3 separate regions of the Homo sapiens genome follow, and all the other regions are linked to region 3. Evidence: fine-mapped QTL for protein levels in blood plasma. A gene starts in region 3. Each other region holds a variant in brackets. All regions are shown on one strand. Distances are from middle to middle.

What was found. PIP is the chance, under the fine-mapping model, that this variant and not a neighbour inherited with it causes the effect. The UK Biobank Pharma Proteomics Project read protein levels with antibody pairs (Olink). The fine-mapping took linkage between variants from a reference panel, not from the people measured, so its PIPs are less certain.
Region 1: its variant is fine-mapped to the plasma level of the MOCS2 protein (UK Biobank, PIP above 0.99).
Region 2: its variant is fine-mapped to the plasma level of the MOCS2 protein (UK Biobank, PIP above 0.99).

Annotation. Positions count from the first base shown.
Region 1 is chr5:53,092,485-53,095,331 of GRCh38, forward strand. It overlaps ITGA2 (integrin subunit alpha 2), which reads left to right. Exons shown (of 30, transcript NM_002203.4): 30 at 1-2,295. Among named protein-coding and RNA genes, the nearest start is that of MOCS2, 16 kb to the right of the region's middle. The variant A/G (reference allele first, on the strand shown) is at 1,114.
Region 2 is chr5:53,048,860-53,051,333 of GRCh38, forward strand. All of the region lies in intron 6 of ITGA2 (integrin subunit alpha 2), which reads left to right. Among named protein-coding and RNA genes, the nearest start is that of MOCS2, 60 kb to the right of the region's middle. The variant T/G (reference allele first, on the strand shown) is at 346.
Region 3 is chr5:53,108,776-53,111,608 of GRCh38, forward strand. MOCS2 (molybdenum cofactor synthesis 2) reads right to left here and starts at 982. Exons shown (of 7, transcript NM_004531.5): 1 at 476-982. MOCS2-DT (MOCS2 divergent transcript) reads left to right here and starts at 1,067. Exons shown (of 2, transcript NR_104654.1): 1 at 1,067-1,373. RefSeq lists a silencer at 721-1,010.

The DNA.
Region 1 (2,847 bases), 16 kb before region 3:
ACACAAAACAAACAAAAAAGGCATAAAATGCCAGCGGTTTATAGAAAAAACAGCATGGTATTCTCCAGTTAGGTATGCCAGAGTCCAATTCTTTTAACAGCTGTGAGAATTTGCTGCTTCATTCCAACAAAATTTTATTTAAAAAAAAAAAAAAAAGACTGGAGAAACTAGTCATTAGCTTGATAAAGAATATTTAACAGCTAGTGGTGCTGGTGTGTACCTGAAGCTCCAGCTACTTGAGAGACTGAGACAGGAAGATCGCTTGAGCCCAGGAGTTCAAGTCCAGCCTAAGCAACATAGCAAGACCCTGTCTCAAAAAAATGACTATTTAAAAAGACAATGTGGCCAGGCACGGTGGCTCACACCTGTAATCCCAACACTTTGGGAGGCTGAGGCCGGTGGATCACGAGGTCAGGAGTTTGAGACTAGCCTGGCCAACATGGTGAAACCCCATCTCTAATAATATAAAAATTAGCTGGGCGTAGTAGCAGGTGCCTGTAATCCCAGTTACTCGGGAAGCTGAGGCAGGAGAATCACTTGAACCCGGGAGGCAGAGGTTTCAGTGAGCCGAGATCGCGCCACTGCACTCCAGCCTGGGTGACAGGGCAAGACTCTGTCTCAAACAAACAAACAAAAAAAAAGTTAGTACTGTATATGTAAATACTAGCTTTTCAATGTGCTATACAAACAATTATAGCACATCCTTCCTTTTACTCTGTCTCACCTCCTTTAGGTGAGTACTTCCTTAAATAAGTGCTAAACATACATATACGGAACTTGAAAGCTTTGGTTAGCCTTGCCTTAGGTAATCAGCCTAGTTTACACTGTTTCCAGGGAGTAGTTGAATTACTATAAACCATTAGCCACTTGTCTCTGCACCATTTATCACACCAGGACAGGGTCTCTCAACCTGGGCGCTACTGTCATTTGGGGCCAGGTGATTCTTCCTTGCAGGGGCTGTCCTGTACCTTGTAGGACAGCAGCCCTGTCCTAGAAGGTATGTTTAGCAGCATTCCTGGCCTCTAGCTACCCGATGCCAGAGCATGCTCCCCCCGCAGTCATGACAATCAAAAAATGTCTCCAGACATTGTCAAATGCCTCCTGGGGGGCAGT[A/G]TTTCTCAAGCACTTTTAAGCAAAGGTAAGTATTCATACAAGAAATTTAGGGGGAAAAAACATTGTTTAAATAAAAGCTATGTGTTCCTATTCAACAATATTTTTGCTTTAAAAGTAAGTAGAGGGCATAAAAGATGTCATATTCAAATTTCCATTTCATAAATGGTGTACAGACAAGGTCTATAGAATGTGGTAAAAACTTGACTGCAACACAAGGCTTATAAAATAGTAAGATAGTAAAATAGCTTATGAAGAAACTACAGAGATTTAAAATTGTGCATGACTCATTTCAGCAGCAAAATAAGAACTCCTAACTGAACAGAAATTTTTCTACCTAGCAATGTTATTCTTGTAAAATAGTTACCTATTAAAACTGTGAAGAGTAAAACTAAAGCCAATTTATTATAGTCACACAAGTGATTATACTAAAAATTATTATAAAGGTTATAATTTTATAATGTATTTACCTGTCCTGATATATAGCTATAACCCAATATATGAAAATCTCAAAAATTAAGACATCATCATACAGAAGGCAGGATTCCTTAAACTGAGATCCCTGATCCATCTTTAATATTTCAATTTGCACACATAAAACAATGCCCTTTTGTGTACATTCAGGCATACCCATTTTAATCAATTTGAAAGGTTAATTTAAACCTCTAGAGGTGAATGAGAAACATGGGGGAAAAGTATGAAATAGGTGAAAATCTTAACTATTTCTTTGAACTCTAAAGACTGAAACTGTAGCCATTATGTAAATAAAGTTTCATATGTACCTGTTTATTTTGGCAGATTAAGTCAAAATATGAATGTATATATTGCATAACTATGTTAGAATTGTATATATTTTAAAGAAATTGTCTTGGATATTTTCCTTTATACATAATAGATAAGTCTTTTTTCAAATGTGGTGTTTGATGTTTTTGATTAAATGTGTTTTGCCTCTTTCCACAAAAACTGTAAAAATAAATGCATGTTTGTACAAAAAGTTGCAGAATTCATTTGATTTATGAGAAACAAAAATTAAATTGTAGTCAACAGTTAGTAGTTTTTCTCATATCCAAGTATAACAAACAGAAAAGTTTCATTATTGTAACCCACTTTTTTCATACCACATTATTGAATATTGTTACAATTGTTTTGAAAATAAAGCCATTTTCTTTGGGCTTTTATAAGTTATATATTTTACTATTTTTATCTTATACATTCACTTTGCTCACATCCAAGACTCAATTTAAGAAGACTGAGGCTATAATTAATTTGCCATAAGTGTCCAGTCTATGTTTCTAGCAGTGACCACAAGGATCTTCTTTTGTAAGACTCTTAAACTGCCTTCGAAGTTTTGAGACAGTGTAAAGCATTGCTCCTCAAAGTGTGGCCCAGGGACAGATGGTGCTGCATCACCTGGAGCCTGTTAAAAAACACAGATCTCAGGGGCCACTCAAAACTATTCAAGTCAAATTGTAAGTTCTACAGCATCCCCAGGTGATTCATATTGCATTGAAGTTGAGAAGCACTGCTCTAAAGCTTACCTTTTGAAATAAAATGTGTGCTTGGAATAGAGAGGGAAAAAAAATCAGCCAAACTGCTGCAACATGCAAAAGCAGAGTCATCTGCACAGTTTAAAAAAAATCATAATAAGCAGGAAGGTTTAAATATTTTTAAAGAGTAAATATGCTGAAATAAATATGCTGTAAGTTATAAAGTAAGTACACGTTGGGCTCACAGACT
Region 2 (2,474 bases), 60 kb before region 3:
AAATCCCCATTTTAAATGCATTTGATGGTAGTTTTTAAAGTTAATTGAAACTTTTACTACATTGGGTTATTCTACCTATGGCTTTGCCCAGTGCTGGTCTTTTGACCTTAGAGTTCTATTTCTGACACAAGCATTAAAGGTATGGGACATAACTTTTTTTTTTTTTTTTAAGACCAAGTCTTGCTCTTGTCACCTAGGCTGGAGTGCAATGGCACGATTTAGGCTCACTGCAACCTCTGCCTCCTGGGTTCAAGCGATTCTTTTGCCTCAGCCTCCCGAGTGGCTGGTATTACAGGCTCCTGCCACCACACCCAGCTAATTTTTGTATTTTTAGTAGAAACAGGA[T/G]TTCACCATGTTGGCCAGGCTGGCCTTGAACTCCTGACCTCAGGTGATCCACCTGCCTCAGCCTCCCAAAGTGCTGGGATTACAGGCATGAGCCACCATGCCCGGCCAGGATATAACATTTTAATCTTCCTTTAGTTTCCTGTCTTTCCCTTCTAACCCATGAGTTACATTTTAAAATTCAATATGTATTTTTATGTCCATTTGGACCAATAATTAATTTCTTTTGTTTATTCCTTGCTGGTAAAACAATTATTGAATTCTGAAATTTGTATAAATAAGTCACTAAGCATAGTTCCAGCATTTATGATAATATTTTATAGTTATTTATCATATTCCAGTTTAGCTTGCCCTTTTGCCTACAGAAAAGGTCTTTTCAATAATTTTATATAGTTCTTTATATTTTAAGAAGTCTTTAATTTGCTTTTACATCTTCTTGAGGTAGGCACCTAAAGCTCAATAGTATTATTTTAAAGTTCAGTTTCTGGTTTTGGATTTTTTTTTTCCTTTCTGATTGAATCTGCCATTTCCTGAGCCATTCTGGTTGTAGCAGTATACTGAACCAGTGTCAACCCGGACCAGTTCACTGTTACCAGTGTATGCTCATGGATTGCATCTTATACTCTAATGTCCAACATCTAATACAAATTGTTGACATATTTTTCCCTAAATGCTTTCCAGCTATCTTTATTGAAATTTGCTTCTCTGCTTTCCTGTTCACTATTATAACATGTTGTTATATGTTTCTCCCATTGAAATTGCTTTTCAGTACCAAGAGTATCTCAATACCCACAGAAGCTTTGGAAATTTCCCTGTGGGCATTTTCCAGGACATTCCGCTAAATAAAACTACATATAGCACTGGTTTCCAGAAAGCACCACTCTTAAAGCCCCTTATAAGTTTTCATATGTATCTCCTTATTTCCTCTGTTTCTAAATGAGTTACCCTCATAATGTGACTAATTTTATTTAAGTCTCCTATATAGAATTCACAGTCTTCCTCTTTTGTGTCTTCCTACCACAGTGCATCTGATTCCTCTCTAGAAGTGGTTTAACTCAATCTCTTTTCTTACAGCCTAAATTTGACCTTCCTGTAAGTTCTAACCTACCACATTTCTTTAAATCTTTTTTCTTCTTTTTCACACAGAAGTCCTGGGGCTCTGTCGTGGGATTACTACCATCTTCCTCTCGTATTGGACTTTGAAATTCTCAGTTATTTTTTATTCTTTCCTCCCTCTCAAGTCTTACATCCCTAGAGAAAGGGGTCCAGGAATATTATATTTCTCACTATCTTCCCAGTGCCTAGCTCACTGCTCCCTTGGCAAAACACAGCAGATGGAACTCAGAAATCCAGTCCTCACCGCTTCCACCTCCTTACATACTGACCTGTATTTCAGAGAGCCTCTTATTGCCATTCAGAGATCCCTCACTGCCACTCCTGTTCTGGAAAGCCCATCTCCTAGGCTTAGAGGATGATCTCAATGCCTGCAAACAAGGACATTAACAGAAGGGTGTGACCTTATTGATCTCTAGGATTAGGGAATGCTCCCAAACATCTTGTTCAGAAATTCTTTCAAATAAGATGCTCTCCAGTGGCATTTTCTCTGAAAGCCAGAAACTCCCTGCCCCATATGCACATATAGCATCTTCTTTCCAGTGTTGTTGAAGCCCATAATAGAGGAAATTCAGCACAATAAATAGACCTCAATTGACTACGCTGATTAGGAGCACATTGGTTTTTGTTGTATTCAATTCTAATTATTTATTACACAGTTACCATCCTTTGATGAGATGTTACTCTTCATCTGTGATTGCTTATAGTTGTTCGCGAGCTTCTGTCCATTGGTAATTAGAAAGTTTATTTATATCAAGTTTAATCTTCCTGTTAAAAACAGTGTTCTAATAGTCATCCATATTAAAATATTATATGGCAGTATTAAAAACTACAAATATTACTCTTGGGAATCAAATCATACACTGTAGCACATCATCTTTCTTGGCAATAGTACTGCTGTTGTACACTGATGGCCTCTAACAGAGAAGAAATCATTCCATTGAAAGAAAAGTAACTATCAAGAACAAAGTTGGAAGTGATGCCTTAAAGCTACCGGCCCATGTCTAAATGTACTTTTG
Region 3 (2,833 bases):
GTAAAAAATTTCAGTATACCTACAAGTTCAAATTCTGAAAACTTGTTGTTTTAAATACAATTCAGACTAATTTCTGGATGCCTTTTAGTTTTACAAACTTAAGTGTGCCATCATTAAAATCCTAAGTATTTATCTTCTAGGAAAACATGTTAAGCCTGCCTTAATTGACATAAAAGTATAGCACCTTTTATAAATATGTAAGCAAAGAACAAATGTTTGAGTCAAGAGATGAGTTACACAAATAAAATAAATGAATAAATAAGCGAAAAACCTGTTTCTCACGGTTGTCAAATGACCTTAGATTCCGGTCTGTATAACATCGTCCCCAGACGCTAAGGATTAAGTTATGCAACATAGTAAATCTGACATTTACAGAAGCAAGTAGGTTTGAAACACACGACAGACTGGAATTTGCTAGAACAAACTTGTGCCAGCAGCCTGGTATGTAAGGGATCCGACGAAGTAAAATAGGCACCTGTCACTCCGTGCAAACAACTCTTTACGAAATAATTACAGGTTTGCAAATGATCAAGGGTGTAGAAATCCACAGATGAAGCACAGTTCTTCACAAGAATTCTCCATGAGGTGCATTTCTTTTTAGATTAAAATTTTAGCTTCATCAAAACGAATAATCTGGGAAAGAGGTGGTCATAAAAGGTGGAGGCGCCTTCAGAACGAGTCCGTCCTTGCTGCCGTGAGCTGACAAGAGTTCTCGGAGAGGACCCGACTTCTGCTGGGGCAGTCGCAGTAAAGCCCGGAGACAGGAAGGGCCCGGGGGCGGGGGCGGGGGCGCCCCCGAACCCAAGACGCCGGCCAGGTTGGGGGCTAGTGGGGAGGTCCGACTGACCAAGGCTGGGTATGTGGAGGGAAAGGGCGGGAGAGACACGTCGAGGAGGGCTCCGCACCCAGGCCCGCACGCACACCCGCCACCCTTACCTGGCACAGCGGCACCATCCCGCCTAGGACAGCGGGACCGAATCACGGCCGCAAAGGCGCAGGCGCGGGCTCACCCGGAGCGCAGGCGTAACCCGACGGCGCTCAGCCCCCGCCTGCGCCTGCACGGAGCATGCGCACAACCAGCTCCGCCCCGCGCCGGGCTCTAGCTGTTTCCCTCAGGCGGCCTGTTCCACGCCAGGATTAGTTTTGCTTCGCAGATGGGCCGTGGTGGTGAGAGGAAGCAATCAGTATGGAAATGGAGAAATGGCTTACCATGCATGTCCTTCTCCCCAGGAGGGAGGTCGTGGTGCAGGCGAGCAGACGCCAGACTCCTGGACACTTGCCGCCTGCGTTATGGAGGCTTAGCTAATAACCTTGCAGGGGTCTTCAGGCTTTTCCACTGGCTCACCTTTAGGCTTCTGACACTTTTACCTACGGTATGTGAACCTCGAAAATTTGAGACAGGTCTCAGTTAACTTAGAAAGTTTATTTTGCCAACGTTGAGGACATGCCCGTGACACAGCCTCAGGAAGTCCTGAGGACATGTGCCCAAGGTGGTCAGGGCACAGCTTGGTTTTATACATTTTGGGGAGACAGGAGACATCAATCAATATGTAAAAAGTACATTAGTTCCTTCCAGAAAGGCGGAGACCGTTAAAAGCAAGCCCCGCCCCCCCCAACTGGGGGCTTCCAGGTAGGTAATAGACAGTAGCATTCTTTTGAGTTTCTGATAAGTCTTTCTAAAGGAGGCAATCAGAATATGCATCTATTCTTTGTCAGCAAAAGAGGTGACTTGGATAGAATAGGAGGCAGATTTGCCCTGAGTAATTCCCAGTTTGAAGGGGCCCAAGATTTTTTTCTTTCCCAGGTATATGATTAGTGTTTCTTAAAGACAGAATATCCGCCTGGTCAGAACATTCGAACTGTATGACTTTTCCTGTTTATTGGCTGCTCGGTAATTGTATACTGTCCGTCCAACTTTCCCAATTCTTGCCAACAAGAACTCTTGGCTTTAAATTGCTTGCGTCGTTAAGTGGATGTAAGTTACACGTCCCTTTCCTTGGAGCTCACAGTCCTGGGTAGGAGAGTTTTAAATATGAATGATAATTCCCTGTAATACTAAGGATCTGTGTTACATTTCAAGGGTGGAAGGGGAAAGTGGTTGTGTCACCTGGGGAGTGAGAAGATGCTGAGAAGGTAAATCTGCTAGAATGGTGGCAGTAAATGACAAGAGTGGGAGTAGAGCACGAAGAAATTTCACTTGCCTCTGACAAGCCACAGGGATATGAAGAAGCATAATAAGTTCACAGAAGGGCAAGTAGTTGGCAAGGCAGGTGTGCCTCCAGCAAAGGAGGTGATGAGAAGTGAGGCTGGAGAGTCCTTGGTAGGAAAAATTGACAAGGAGCAATGAATACCAATGTGTATCCTGGTAAAGTTGCTAAACATAAAGGATAAAGACTATATTCACACCCAGGCATAAAAACAAGGGAATGACAATAGTGGCCTTAGACTCCTCAGTGGCATCTGATGGCAATGTGCAGTGTGTAAAAAAGGCTGAGAACAAAAGCATGATCCCATAATATTACAGCCAAACTGGTGGGGCAGGATTCTCCTAAATCAGCAAAAACTCAAAAAACACAATACCCAAGAACCCTTCTTAAAAATCTTTCTTGGGCAAAAAGTCCACTCAATCAAGAGTAATCAAAGTAAATAACTCAGCAATAAAGGTATTAATATGGGAAAAATGAAAAACTAAAAAAACTGGCATTGAGATTTTAACCCATTCAAACGTAAAACTAAGATATCAATTATGGGATATGATTATAAAATAAAATGTAAATGACATCAGAATATTAAAAAAAAATGGAAACTGTCCAAAGTGGGAACATATAGTTAC